Linked DNA regions of Homo sapiens. The protein of the gene in region 1 binds, or shares a complex with, the protein of each later gene. Each region holds a gene or a part of one and is shown on either strand. Other genes may lie near its edges. A codon is read from its position in the direction of its gene.

Evidence for each region. Proteins that work in one complex are often made in the same cells at the same time.
Region 2: the proteins of EIF2S1 (region 1) and EIF2B1 are in contact, whole or in part, in a cryo-EM structure (PDB 6K72), measured with the Homo sapiens proteins. Residues at the interface, in NP_004085.1 of Homo sapiens: Ala28, Glu29, Met30, Tyr33, Gly44, Met45, Leu47, Leu48, Arg75, Lys80, Tyr82, Ile83, Asp84, Arg88; in NP_001405.1 of Homo sapiens: Gly39, Thr41 (codon at 7,027), Ile42 (codon at 7,024), Gln43 (codon at 7,021), Gly44 (codon at 7,018), Leu45 (codon at 7,015), Arg46 (codon at 7,012), Ala47 (codon at 7,009), Asn48 (codon at 7,006), Glu70 (codon at 6,940), Arg74 (codon at 6,928), Ser77 (codon at 6,919), Ser80 (codon at 6,910), Leu81 (codon at 6,907), Glu82 (codon at 6,904), Tyr83 (codon at 6,901), Ser84 (codon at 6,898), Asp85 (codon at 6,784), Tyr86 (codon at 6,781), Cys89 (codon at 6,772), Leu305.

What each region holds. Positions count from the first base shown.
Region 1 is NC_000014.9:67,355,923-67,363,583, reverse strand, and holds the start of EIF2S1 (eukaryotic translation initiation factor 2 subunit 1), read right to left. Parts: upstream 3,257-7,661; 5' UTR 3,128-3,256; intron 1-3,127. Other genes in the region: ATP6V1D (V-type proton ATPase subunit D), read left to right, coding at 3,886-3,926. UniProt on the Homo sapiens protein: Member of the eIF2 complex that functions in the early steps of protein synthesis by forming a ternary complex with GTP and initiator tRNA. This complex binds to a 40S ribosomal subunit, followed by mRNA binding to form a 43S pre-initiation complex (43S PIC).
Region 2 is NC_000012.12:123,623,502-123,631,118, forward strand, and holds part of EIF2B1 (translation initiation factor eIF2B subunit alpha), read right to left. Parts: intron 7,033-7,617; coding exon 6,896-7,032; intron 6,785-6,895; coding exon 6,668-6,784; intron 3,656-6,667; coding exon 3,543-3,655; intron 2,993-3,542; coding exon 2,924-2,992; intron 1,362-2,923; coding exon 1,286-1,361; intron 1-1,285.

The DNA of each region.
Region 1 (7,661 bases):
CAGGTGATGAGTCAGGATTTGAATCCATGAAGTCTGGATCCAGAGTCTGTCCTCTTATCAGTAAGACTATATTCTCTCAAAACTATTCATAAATATATTATAATTAGAAACATTTTACTTAAAAAGCAACATTAATATATATTCAGTGCCAGAGTACATAACACCAATAAGTGCAAACTATTAGTACTCATCTGTTTGACAACAAAGAGCAGCATATTAATGACAGTAGCAGAGATGTATTTCTTTGTAGGGAATACAAAATCCCTACAAAATAGGGATTTAGCAAATAAAGAGAAGTAGACATTCAATGGCCTTACCCACCAAGAAACAGCTGACTGTTTGTTTCGTTTTTAAACAGGGCTTTTCGAGGGTGGGGGTGGGGAAACTGTTGTTGAATATGTGTATGTAAAGCTCTCAAATTTGAGAGCTAAAAAGTTTCAAATTGGGCATAAAAATAAACTATGTTACAGAAATGTATGGAACAGTTGCAAGACATTTGACCAGTGAAAACCACATTTACTTACCAAGCTTCTCCAAACAGTAAAGGTGATGCTTTTAGGGGAAGCAAGGCTTAATTTGATGGTTAAAAAACATGGGCAATCATGTAAGAGAATCCTGAAGGGATATGACTATGAATACTATTTCTTCAGGAGGCACAAGTCTCTTTGCAACATAAAGGGTAAGTAAAGGAATACTGTTGATGGTATGTTATTCATAGTAAAGATAGATAGTAGTTAAGTACAAAAAGAATCCATACCACAAAAACCTGCATATTGGTTGACAATTTTTGAACATATTGCCTAATGAAATGCTAATAACTTAAATTTTTTTTTTAACTTAAAAAAATCATTCCGCAATATCGAAGTCACACTAGGTGACTTCACCTCTTTATCTTTTTCACAGCATTCTTATTTTATTTGGTCCTCAAGAAGTGTCAAATCAGGCAATTAACATAGTAAACTCGGGGAACAACTCTAGCCTTGTGTTCCAGTCCTTGCTCTGCTACTTACTAGAAGTGGCTGCTTGGGAAAGATAACATCCTTTGAACTGTAGTTTCTCATCTGTGCCATGTACATCACAGGTTTACTGAGGGTATCACATGTATACGTAAAAACATTTTGAAAACCATTATGTGCTAGTCAAACATAAAATATTGAAAGAAAAAGAAGGTATTTCCATTTTGTAATATAATAATTTGTTAATTTTTTTTTCAGTAGCTACTATGTACTAAGCACTAATGATACAACAAGAAAGACTCTTACCAGGCCAGGCGCAGTGGCTCACACCTGTAATCCCAGCACTTTGGGAGGCCGAGGCGGGTGGATCACTTGAAACCAGGAGTTCGAGGCCAGCCTGGTCAACATGGTGAAACCCCATTTCTACTAAAAATACCAAAATTAGCTGGGTGTGGTGGCAGGCACCTGTAATCCCACTACTATAGTGGCTGAGGCAGGAGAATCCCTTGAACCCAGGGGCAGAGGCTACAGTGAGCTGAGATCGTGCCACTACACTCCAGCCTGGGCAACAGAGACTCTGTCTCAAAAAAAAAAAGAAAAAAGAAAAAAGAAAAAAAAAAAAGACTCTTACCTAAGTAATTAAGTATAGAGTGGGAAACAAACTAGCAAGCAAATAATTACAATACAAAGTACTATGAAAGGGCACAGTGAAGCAATGAACAGGAAAGGTGGAACAGAAATACTAAATTATAATACTTCCTTAAGAACAAATGCTTAATAAGTACTAGCGTAGGAGCTAAACTCAAGTAATCCGACATCAAATCCAGAATGTCTTTAACCCACAGAACCTCAATATCACAACATGCTATAATACTCTTATGTGTTCTGATGTAAAAAGTATCAGCCACCTTTCAAAATATATCAACCAAACTCCAGGCTAATTTCAAATACCCTGCATAGTCAGTTATTTTGCATGACAAATGGTAGGTAGGACTTCTTTCTCAAAACAGTGCATGGTCAAACTGCTATAATGGATATAGAAGTTCACATTCCTTTCCAAAATATATTATGTGATGGGGACAACTCTCGTGATAATTCTAATTTGGATCTAACACGTATTAGGAATGCTCTCTGAATGCTAGTTCTTGGTATAGGAGTGCTACATAAGTAAAGCTTTTATTTCATCATTATAGTTGAAAAAGAAAGTTATCACCGAATCTCTACAAACATTACTGTGCATGAGACAACTACATCTTTTGGCACCAGATGAACTAAGAATAGGTAGCAAAGTTCTGTACAAGTCACCCCCAAACTATTGACAGAGATTGTTCCTTGAATAACAACTCAATTGAGGGGAAATAAAGACTTCTCTGCTATACTTTTTCTCGAAGAAACCATGTTTTTTGCTTAATAAAAATTTAAAAAGCCTAAGTTTTGAGGATAAAGAGACCTCAGCATGACTGTGTATTTAACCCGAAAATATATCCTTATCTTAGGTTTTAGTTATGCTTAACTAACATAGTTAACCTAACATATGCTTAACACAGTTCTATTCTCATTGTCGCCAAAATACGACAAACTGATAGTAACAGTAATAAACTCAAGTCTCATTTAGTTTTGGTTCAAGGGGTGACTCATTCAATTATCAGATGAAAAACTACTCGGACCCCGCTCTTTCCAACACGGTGCCCGTCCCACAGGTTTCTCAGGTAAGAGGCCAGTTTGGTTTCCACTGAGACGCAGGGGAAATTTTTGGTAGAGCTGTTGGGGCGGAAGAAAAGATGGAATTCTCAAGCCTGGAAAAAGCAAAGTGCTCAGCGTCCTGAGCCGGGGTTAAGAGTTACGGTGTCACAGCGTTCTCCTGAGACCGCCCCATCGTCATGGCATTCTCACTTTCGGCATATTGTAGAGGCTGTACAATCCACTCGGCCCACTTTCCTTCACGAGATTCCTCTGCTCGAACAACGATGCCTCTGGAACACAGGATGACCTACACGGAGCCGGCGAGGAGGCCCACGACAGCGCGGGTGGTGGCGGTGCTGTCCAGCCACTTCCCGCGCAGGGACGGGAAAGGGAGGTATTAGCCCGGGGCCTACCCGCTCTCGAACACCCATGTCACTGGACACAAACCAAAGTGAGTTCCTGGAGAAACCGAGCTTGGGATTAGTCACCTGAGGTATGTGTGTGATTCCCGCACTGGAGCCCAGAGCCGACTTCTTCAATCACAGAGACCAGACTTGCTTCCCCCTCACCGGCCGCCGATCCTCCTCAGCGTGCGCTTCGCTCACTCCACCGCGCATGCGGAACCTCCTCGCATGCGCAAGCGCTGAACGAATAGAGGCCCCTCTTCATCATTAACCATAGAGTCTGGGTCCTCCGAGAACAAGGACGAATGTAGATCATGGAAGGACCTGAAAAGTACTGTTTCTCGCTATCTTAGCTTTAGCTAAGTAACCTTCAAGGCGCGAGAAAGACATAGGACTCCGATTCCTTGCCTCTGAAGAATGAATCCTCTTTCAAAGTTTCAGCTAACCATGAGATGGCGCTGTGACCAAAGACGAAAGGTGGAGAAAGACAAGGCGTGCACGCTTCGCTCCTAGTCTTTGGCCTGGCGCGTGCCGCGTATTGCGCAGCCGCAGGGAAGCTGGATGGGGAGGGGTTGGGAGGCGAACCGGAATTGAGGGGTGGTTCCGCGGTGCGCGCGCCTCGACATCCGGGCAACGCCTCTGTTCTGTCCTCCCCCTTCGTCGCCTGTGACAACCGGAAGCGGAAGTGAAAATGGGTGTCCCTGCTGCCTCTTAGCAACAAGAGGGGTCAAGTGACACAACCAGCTGACTCCCGTAGAGGAAGACACTGTGGAGGCCAGTTCTGGAGCTATTGCAGCCTCGGTTGCCCGGCCGGGGACCCGAGCCGAAAAGTTATCGTCAGAATGTCGGGCAAAGACCGAATTGAAATCTTTCCCTCGCGAATGTAAGTAAAGGAATGGGATAAGCCGCTTTCACAGGTTTAGGAACCCGGAGCGCGGTCCCTTCAGACCCTGGGCCACAGTGAGGGTCCTTGTTTCCTGGGAGGATCCTGAGCTTTTCCCAGGTTCTTTTCTTGAGTCTAGGGCGAGGCTTCCTGACGGCCTCTTCGCGCATTCCTCCTGAGTGAATCAGGCTGGACGAAGCGATCCCAGCCGGTAGGAAAAGGCGCCCGGCCGGCGGGCTTTTGTGGAGGTCTGCTGTCTTTATTCATTAATGGATTCATCCATTCCACATACCCTTATTGAGCCGGGCACTGGATTTATATAACTGAACCGTCGCCACCTCTGCCCTACAGAGCTCACAGTTTACGTAGCCAGACATTCGTCTGGAAAGGCCAAGGAGGTTTTAATAAATGCTCTGAGAAGGGAAGTTTACTGAGGATATAGAAGAGGTCCCTAAGCCAAAGTGGGGATGGAATCGAATCGCCCTAGCATAGCCCTCGGATTCGATCTTGGATCCCCTTACTCATTTTCCAAGATCCCGCCAAATGTCACCTGCTGTGAGAGGATATCCCTGTGTTTCTGAGGCACTGCTTTTGCTCTCTCACCGCTGCACCTTGTTCAGACCTGTGTTAATACCGGTCATCACGCTGTAAAGTAGATATTTGTTTATGTGTCTTTCTCTCCCACTAGACTGTGGGCTCTCTCCAGGATGAAAGAGTGTCTTAATCCATAGAAGGTCCACAAAAAAATATTTCTTGAAAGAACTCATGCTTGGGAATACGCTCAGTTGTGGGCTGCCTTTCTTTTGGGGCCTGAATTCTTTGTCAGGAAAATGGCATATCACTGTAGGTGTTTGGCTAGTTTGTAAGGAAAATTTTGACGTTTTCTCAAATGTGCCTAACAACTTGCTCCCTTTCTCCTCCTCATCCTGTTTATTTTTATTTAGTTTGTTGTTTGTTTGTTTTAATAAGAGACAGGGTCTCCCAGGCTGGGGTGCAGTGGTATGATCAGAGCTCACAGCAGCCTCAAACCCCTGGGCTCAAGTGATCCTCCGGCCTCAGCCTCCCTGGCGGCTGAGATTATAGATGGGAGCCACCGCGCCTGGCTTTCCCTTTTTCTTTTCAGTGAGGAAGCAGAAAATCAGTTTTGACCCTGACATTTAGACCCTTTTATTGTGGTCCTATCTCTGTGGGGGTGTTTTGTTGTTTTTCCTCATTCTGTCCTTTGAGAGAATCTGAGGATGCTTAAAATAAAAGTTATATTCAAACCTGAAGCCCAGATTTCTTTCTGCCCGGTGACTAAATAGCTCTTAATGAAATGAAGTTTTTAAATTTTTTACCTTCACCTGTTGACTTTCTAATAGCTGTTTGCACTAAGTAGGCAGCAAGCTAGTTGTGGGGAAATAAAGATGAGGACTATCCCGAGGTAGTGACAACTGCAGAACTCCTAGGACGTGATGACTCAGTCAAAACTTCTGCACTGAAAGACATCGACACTAGTTTATCTTCTAGCAATGTAAGGCCTGCCCCTAGGGTGACCCCAGGCCGCCCCCCGCCGCCCCCGCCATTAAAATGCCTGCCTGAAAAAGCTCAAAGCTAGGGGGAGAATTTACTGTTTGTTCTAGTCAACACCTAATTGATAGACCCCTCTCGTTCCCTTTTTAGAGCATTTACGAAACAGGCTTACAATTGTTAATATGTATCTCTTCCAACTCTGAAGTGTCCCTTCAAGTATCTTTGAGAGCCATTTCTTTGAAACGTAATCATCAGGAGGGATAGGGGCTTTGTCTCCCAGTCTGTGTGAGAGGATAGAATAGTAACTTACTAATTGCCAGGTAGTATGGCGTTTACACTGACCAACACTTTAAGGTTTCTCTTCTCTGACTCTTCTTGCGGCTGGCTCCCTGCCACTCCCTTACTCTCTTTTTTAAAATGGCCAGTCACCTCTGCACAAATGAGAATTGAGCTCAGCCCTTTCCCCTACTATCAGTGGTTTACTGAATAAAATCTGTTTTCACTACTTTAACGAATGTCTGGCTGGGTTTATCTTTGACAGCAGTCAGAATAACTTTTTTGTTTTTACTTTGAAACTTTTACTTTGAGACTAAGAGGCAAAAATAGACATCTTTGGGCTTAGGTAAGAAAATGATAGGCTCATGAAGGTGAAACTACTATTTGAAAGCTCTCAGCTTGCTGATTGAGAGGAAAATCAGGTGCAGGAAATAATCTCTTCTCTAAATATTTTCCCCATGGCTGGCAGCAGGCTTTTTGTCATGTAGTCAGATGTCTTTGATTCAGCTGGAAGAAAAGTCATCATCCTAGCTAAAGGTCAAACTTTTTGAGTAGGACTGAGCAGCTCTGAAACATGTAAAGGAGCAAGTTTTAAAAGCCATAGGCTAGAAAATATACTGGCAGCTTGTTTCACAGACATTTCCATTCAACAGTATTATTCTGTGATGTTACTTTCACCCACTTTCGTACCAGAGAAAGCAAAAACAATTGTAGAGTGGAAGTAAAAGACGCATGAAAAATTTGGAGTCAACAGAAGTCCACTAAATCCAGGTTCTGCTACATATTAGCTGTAAGTGTGCACGCTGCTCTTAGAGTTTCAGGAATTAAAATTGCCCATTTCACAAAGATGCCATTCCCTAGGAGGAAAATAAAATTAACATGGTAAATTCAATTTTATCAACCAGTTTACCTTTTACTATAAACTGGCTGGAATATGCAGTACTACAATTTGACTTAAATTTGATCCAGCTCTTTGAGCCCAAGTTCTAGTATTTACTATCAACAATACATTATGTTAAATGCACACATTGAGATGGATAGCTCCTTCTCAGGCTGGAAACTAAACGACCTTCACTTGATAAGACCTCTTGTGAGACCAGTCAGTGCAGAGTCAGCCAGTGATAATTGTTCTCTTTAAGGGGAGGCACATGTTTGGGGTACAGTGAACGTAGGTTGGAGCCTTAGTTTGAGCATTGGGAAAGTCAGTGGAATCAAAAGTCTGGTTCAAGTCCCTGCCCTGCCTTTTCTTCACTGAGTAACTTTGAGAAAGTTGTTTTACTTTTCTAAGCCTCATTTTTCTAATCTTTAAGTTAATGTCTAAAGTCCCTTTCAGCTATAGAATTGTCTTAGTGATCTTAGCCCTATGGTAAAAGATTCCAGTATAATTTAAGAATTTGGCCAAATGGTGTTTGTTTGTTTTTGTTTTTTTTTTTTTGTTTTTGTTTTTTTGAGGCAGGTTTTCCCTCTGTTGCCCAGGCTGGAGTGCAGTGACCCGATCTTGGCTCACTGCAACCTCTGCCTGCCAGGTTCAAGTGATTTTTGTGCCTCAGACTCCTGAGTAGCTGGGACCACAGGGATGCAGCACCATACCCAGCTAATTTTTGTATTTTTTGGTAGAGATGGGGTTTCACTATGTTGGCCAGGGTGGTCTCGAACTCCTGACCTCAAGTTATCCACCTGCCTCGGCCTCCCAAAGTGTTGGTATTACAGGTGTGAGCCACTGCACCTGGCCAAAAAAGTTTATTAGTACATGCGATTTTAAAACACCAGTCATATGAAATTATATCCCCTTAAATCACTGTGTCTAGGTTATACTGTGTCTAGGTTATACAACCTTATTGTTGAATTTTATTACCCAAACACTTGTTTTTTTGAGACCGAGTCTTGCTCTGTTGTCCAGGCTGCAGTGCAGTGGCATGATCACAGCTCACTGCCTCAACCTCCTGG
Region 2 (7,617 bases), on another chromosome or scaffold:
TTCTGAAAGTTAAATATATAGTTACCATGTGACTCAACACTCTGCCTGCAGACCTCCGCCTCCCAGGTTCAAGCGATTCTCCTGCGTCAGCCTGCCAAGTAGCTGGGATTACAGGCACCCGCCACCATGCCCAGCTAATTTTTTGTATTTTTAGTAGATATGGGGTTTCACCATGTTGGCCAGGCTGGTCTCGAACTCCTGACCTCAGATGATCTACCTGCCTCAGCCTCCCAAAGTGCTGGGATTATAGGCGTGAGCTACTACGCCCGGCCTTATGTTACATATATTTTAACTAAAAAAAGCTTTCATGAAGCTTTTCTAAATTAAATAATGGAGAGAGAGATTGTAATAAATTGAGGTCAAATGTGCTCAATTAAAATGAAAACAAATGACAGGCCGGCCACAGTGGCTCATGCCTGTAATCCTAGCACTTTGGGAAGTGGAAAGATTGCTTCAGGCTAGGAGTTCAAGACTGCAGTAAGCTATGATCACTGTACTACACTACAGCCTGGGCAACAGAGTGAATGTGTCTCTATTTTAAAATATATATAATATTTATATATAAATACACGTATTTTATACATACATACTTTATATGTAAATATATAAATAATATTTTAAAAATATTTGTGTATATATATTATGTGTGTGTATATATATGCATAAATAAAACATACATATACACATAAATAAAGCAAAAACCAGACAAACCCCAATTCCAATTCAAGCCAATTTTGTATAAATATAAATTACACTTTTTTTTTTTTTTTTTTTACTGAGACAGGGTCTCACCATCGCCCAGGCTGGAATGCAGTAGTGTGATCATAACTTACTGCAACCTCAAATTCCTGGGCTCACGTGATACTCCTGCCTCAGCTTCCTGGGCAGCTGGAACTACAGGCAAGCACCACCACGCCCAGCTAATTTTTCTAATTTTTTGTAGAGACAGGGTTTCACTATGTTGCCCAGGCTGGTCTTGAACTCAAGGCCTCAAGTGATCCTCCCACCCTGGCCTCTCAAATTGCTAGGATTACAGGTATAAGGCATCACACCTGACCAAATTACATTGTCTTCATTTATGTAGATCAATCTAAAAAAGATTTGACTGAAACTGGACTGCCCATTGCTATGACTTACGGGAAATGGGCAACAACTCAATACCATGATGAAGTCCTGAAGTGAAGCAGGATTAGAAGGAACCATAATCAACACTGCTGTGGTGTCCTAGGTCAGCAAGACACCTCCAAGTCTTGAGCAGGGAACTGGGGAGAACTGATGCTCTTACCTTGTTAATAATTCCTCCGTTTTCAACAACTCCTTCAGCACCAACTATGACAAGATCTGCTTTCTCCATGATGTAGCTAAGGGGAAAAAAAGCTTTTCATGCTTTATTTTCTTGGCTCTAACGAGTAGCATCATCATCTGCAAAGATCAATATTCCATTTCTATCAAGGTAAGTTCCTCCCATAACTACCTGTTTTTTTTAAAGCGCACTTAACACGCGATAGACCCCTGGCATTGTTACCAGGGGTGTTTTCTGGTCATGACCCTACAATGAGACATACACTTCACACTGCCGCCCGGCGCATGCACACGTACATATGTGTGTAAGTGAAGCAAGAATGTCCTGACACAGCAGTCTTCCTTCCAAGTGTGGTATCCTCTACTTTCTTTTCTACTTCAGCACAAACCAAACAAAATTTTAAAATCTGATGAGATCTGAAGTTGGACAAAAGTGTTATGCAGTTTTAAAAATCTTTCTTTTTTTTTTTGAGACCAGATCTCACTCTGTTGCCCAGGCTAGAGTGCAGTGGCATGATCTCAGCCCAAACCTCTACCTCTTAGGCTCAAGCGATCCTCCCATTTCAGCCTCCCAGGTAGCTGGGACCACAGCATATGCCACCATGCCCTAGAGATGGGGTTTCGCCATATTGCCCAGGCTGGTCTCCAACTCCTGAACTCTAGCGATCCACCTGCCTCAGGTATGAGCCACTGTGCCCAACCTTAAGAATCTTTCTGGTAGGATGAAGGCCAATTTAGTCTTTAAAATGAGCAATTAGTAGAATTCCTCAAAATCCTTACTTTTGAACACATTCCTAATTTCCTTAATCATCTATCTTGTTTTCATTCCAAGAGATCACTACTCTTGTTTTTTCTTGGGAAATACACTGACAATCCCAGGAACATGTGACTTGGCTTTGCGACACAAGCTGCATCTTCTAGGTGAGACAAAGCATCCCAGTATGCCACTGAGGACAGCCAGGTCTTCACAGAAATACAGAGCCCTGATTACCCTCTGCTGATCCCAACTGACCTTTGTACTTTGCTCTTAAAATGCATTTGCACTGGCTGGGCGTGGTGGCTCACGCCTGTAATCCCAGCACTTTGGGAGGCCAAGGCGGGCAGATCACCTGAGTTCAGGAGTTCGAGACCAGCCTGGCCAACATGGTGAAACCCCATCTCTACTAAAAATATAAAAGAATTAACGTGGCATGGTGGCATGCGCCGGTAATCCCAGCTACTTAGGAGGCTGAGGCAGGAGAATCGCTTGAACCTGGGAGGTGGAGATTGCAGTGAACCAAGATCATGCCATTGCACTCCAGCCTGGGCAACAGGGCAAGACTCCATCTCAAAAAAACAAAAAACAAACAAACAAAAACAACAACAACAACAAACTCAACACTTACAGCCATAAAGCTATAGACACAACTCCCACTCTCCCCAACATCCTACAGCTCTGTCTTCTTTGTATGCTATCACAACCTCATAACAAGCTTGCTGGTTTAGGGCAGCTATTAATTAAGAAGTAGGACGCTACCTGGTGTGGCTTTATGAACGGGACTCAAACTTTCAATCTGAAAACTTGCTGTAAGCCAGCATGGGGTGGGGGAGGTGATTATGGCTGGGGAAGATGGGCACTCACCCGACAGCAGCATCTAGCACCACAGTGACAGGGACGTTGAGGTGGCAGAGGGCTTTGGCCATTTTCTTACTGAAGATGACATTTTGAGAACGTTAGAGAAAGTACAAGACAGTACCACAGTGATGTATGTCACCTAATGTGGACAGTGGATGTTTGCTTGAAACTCACATTAATACTAATGGGTTAAGGGGCAGATCCCAATACTTTGGACTAAGGAAACAAGAATTTGAGTTCTTTAGAAAGAAGTATTTTTGGAAAACTATACTCTTAGACTCTGGGTAAGAGATGTAAATTCAGGAAAAAAGGAGGAAGTTTTGCTTTGATTATCGTCTAGAGAGAGGGAGATATAAGTTACCTATTCCTTGATAAAAATCTTCATCAATACAATCTCTGCTCTTCCACGGAGTTAACTACTTAAGTGAAACCCCTAGATCATATACTGCGGCCTGCTGCAAATTCAGTGATTTTTCTTCCAAAGGCAGGAAAAGGTACAATGAAAGGCAGTGCTGACTGCTGGCAAGCTGGGGGCACATTCTGGTTCTGATCCTGTTGGACTGTAATCCGCAGTTTGCTCTGTAAAATTATGGCTGGGCACATAACTGAACAGAAAGGTACTTGCCCTGACAAATCAGGCTGTGACTCTGTGACGTATACACTAAATCGCTTCTTGGCCGCCACGGCTGCTTCCAGGACTCTCAGGACCACTCTGGAGTAGGCGTGAGTCAATATTGTCTGTGGACCGAGAAAGCTTTGTCAAAGGGGCAGGCTCCTTGCTGCTCACTCACACCCTCTGCACTGCGGCACGTGTTCCCGACACCCTAAGCATCTCTGTACACTTTCTCACAAATCAACCACAACCAGAAAGGAGACCTGATGGTACAGTTTCCATCCCATGTGCAAGCTAAAAAAGTTTCTGCCAGGTCTCACATCCTGTAGCAGGTGCAGAAATGGAACTCCCACACAGTGTTACCCAAAGGATACAAAAGCCTGGATAGCTGAAGGCTCCATGAGGTTCCCTTGGGTTGGTTTTCCTATTTCTAAGACATGGTTTGCACACGCAGGCCTACAGGAACCAAGTAGGTAGCAGAAGTCACTGCAGCAGGTTGGGTGGGGCCAGCAGCAAAGCGAAAGGCTACAGAAGGCTGGGTGTGGTGGCTCACGCCTGTAATCCCAGCATTTTGGGAGGCCAAGGTGAGAGGACTGCCTGAGCCCAGGAGTTCAAAACCAGTCTGGGCAACTTGGCAAGACCTCATCTCTACAAAAAATAACAACAAAAAAAATTAGCTGGATGCAGTGGCATGTGCCTATAGTCCCAGCTACTTGGGAGGCCGAGGTGGGAGGATCACTTGAGCCTGGGAGGTTGAGGCTGCAGTGAGCCATAATCATGCCAGTGCACTCTAGTCTGGGCAAGAGAGTGAGACTCTGTCTCAAAAAGAAAAGGCTAAGGAGGGCCAGGACTCCTCAGCCCCAGCTGGCGTCATGTGGCCCCAAGATTGCCAGACCAGGTGATGTTTCAAAAATCCAATTTTGAAATGATGGCTAACTAATTTTTTTGAATTTATAAACACTGTTTGGGGTAATCACAACCTATCTGTGGCGTGGATGCAATGTGTAGACACTTAGACATAATCTGTTTTCTTTTCTTTCTTGAGCCAAGGTCTTGCTCTGATGCCTAGGCTGGAGTGCAGTGCAGTGTTCATGGCTCACTGTAGCCTCGACATCCTGGGCTCAAACGATCCTCCCACCTCAGCCACCCCAGTAGCTGGGACTACAGATGTGCGCCACTGTGACTAGCTAATTTATTTTATTTTTTGTAGAGACAGGGCCTCTCTCCCTATGTTGCTCAGGCTAGTGTTGAATTCCTGGCCTCAAGGGAACCTCCGGCTAGGATTATACACATAAGCCACCACAGTAGGCCCATAACCTCTTTTTTTTTTTTTTTTTTTTTTTTTGGTGAGACAGGATCTCACTCCAATTGCCCAGGCTGAAGTGCAGTGGTATGATCTCAGCTCACTGCAGCCTCAACTTCCTGGGTTCAGGTGATTCTCCCACCTGAGCCTCCCAAGTAGCTGGGACCACAGGAGTGTGCCACCACGCCTGGCTAACTTTTTGTATTTTTAGTAGAGATGAAGTTTTGCCATGTTGCCCGGGCTGGTCTTGAACTCCTGGACTCAAGCAATCTGCGTGTCTTGGCTTTCCAAAGTGCTGGGATTACAGGCATGAGCCACCATGCCCAGCCTCCATAACCTCTTTTCTATGGAAGAGTGCAGAAGACAGAATAAGACAAGGGGGCAGAACCAGCTCTCTAGCTCCTTTCTGGGTCTCACCTGAGAACCCGTTAGGAAGGCAGGTTCGTGGACCCTAGCCCAAACCCACTGAATCCCGATCTGCATTTAATAAGACCCCAGCTGACTCCTCTGCATGTGCAAATCTGAGCAGCTCTGCTATAAATTTTGTCTAAATCAGTCCTGAGTAGGTGACTGCAGGTAAAGTACATACATACCACACTACACTAGAGCAAACGAAACCCGCACAATACTGACGGCACAGCAGGTCTGTGGAAGGAGAAGGCCCCAGCGAGAGGAAGTCACAACCTTGCCTCCACTTGCCCAAAAAAGGCTTCGTTTGCAACTGGCTTTTCTACAAGTTTCACTCACATCTATTATGCCATTTATTTAATAACATACTTCAAAGGTTGGGAAGGGGCTAATAAAATGGAGGACAAGATTTAAGAGTCAAAATGCAAGTAAATGATTTTATGATCAGGGGAGGCCTAGGTGGCAAAAGGACGTATGCTGGTGGGAGGGGCATTATGATAGTTTCATTACACCTTTACTGGAAGATGGTTCAACTTGCACCTCCTGTCTTTCCTCACTTATAAACACTGCGTGGCTTTACATCTCTGTAATAGCATCTAAAATGAAGTTAAAAAGAAAATTTCCCTCAATTTCCCTCTATTGCTAACCTTCACTAAGAAAGTCCTCAGTGTTAACCAGTGACAAGAGCTGTTCTGTTAATTCAGATTTACTACACATACAATCATAAAAATACTTCTTTAGTAAAACACTGTATTAAATCAAGAATCAGGGCCAGGTGCGGTGGCTCACGCCTGTAATCCCAGCACTTTGGGAGGCCGAAGCGGGTGGATCACAAGGTCAGGAGATCGAGACCATCCTGGCTAACACAGTGAAACCCCGTCTCTACTAAAAATAAAAAAAATTAGCTGGGCTTGCTGGTGGGCACCTGTAGTCCCAGCTACTCGGGAGGCTGAGGCAGGAGAATGGTGTGAACCCAGGAGGCGGAGCTTGCAGTGAGCTGAGATCGCGCCACTGCACTCCAGCCTGGGTGACAGAGCAAGACTCCGTCTCAAAATAAATAAATAAATAAATAAAATAAATCAAGAATCACACGTGCTGTCCCACTGTCCCTCTCTGCCTGTTTACAATGACAACCATCTCTAATAACAAGACCTACATTCATGCAGCACTTACTAAGTGCCAGGCACAATACCAAGCCCTCACACCCCTTGCCCCTTACATGTCTTGCCTCATTTAATCCTCACAACAACCCAAGGAGGTAGGTACTATTGTCATCCTTATTTAACAGATGAGAAAGCTGCACAGACAGGTTAAGTTACTTGTTCAAGTCTCCACAGCAAGTGAGTGGCAGAGCCCGGATTTTACCCCAGGCAGTCGGACTCGAAACCGTTGCTCCTCCTTACCACCATGATGATTATCCACTCACCGCTCCATCTTTGATGAAAGTATGGCACAGATCTGCAATTTTGTTTCTTGACAGTGATATTCTCCTGAGAAAAAGTTCTCCCCGCTCAATCATGATCTTTTTACATTTGGAGTAATCCTAGGAAGAAAAGAGCAAACTGAGGGGACAGGGAAGATCCAGTTAATGCTGAGAATGTCTGTCACTAAACAGAGAAGTGGAAAGGTAACCCCAGGGAGAACAGGCACTTACGGAGTATTCCAGGGAGGCAAGACTGATGAAGCGGAGGAAGAGCTCCCCGCCAGAGGACACTGCCACAGAGGAGTCCACACCACACAGGGTTTCTATGGCACTGGTGAGATTCGCCCTCAGACCCTGGATTGTCTCCCCTGGAATGATCCAACAAGGAATGTGATGTTCACATTAGGGCCACAGCCCCGACCTGTATCTTCAATTCATTCATTCATTCAGTGAATATTTACTAGGTACATACTATATACCAGGCACTATTCTAGATGCTAGGGATACATCAGTGAACAAGACAGGTAGGGTTCTGCTGTGATGGAGTTTTGATTGTAATAGAGGAAGCGGATAGTAAACAAGCACACATAGAAATAAAGCTGGGTGGCTGGGCATGGTGGCTCACGCCTGTAATCTCAGCACTTTGGGAGGCTGAGGCATGGAAAGACATTAAGTAGCAGCGGCAGATGAGGTCTGCAAGGTGGTATGGGTGAGGCTAAGGTTGTTTGGATGTTATTTTAAGAACAATGGGAAGACACTGGAGGTTGCCTTAAAGACATGTGTCTCTAGGCAAGCCCTTCAGATTAAAGGCTGCATTATTATTTTGCTTATACAAGATTTCATGCTATACCCAGATGCTTACATTTAGGGTGCTGAATTAGGGGATCACAATAAATAATACTAATACCAGAATTTATTCTGGAATATTCCCTGTAGCATCTGTACAGAATCTG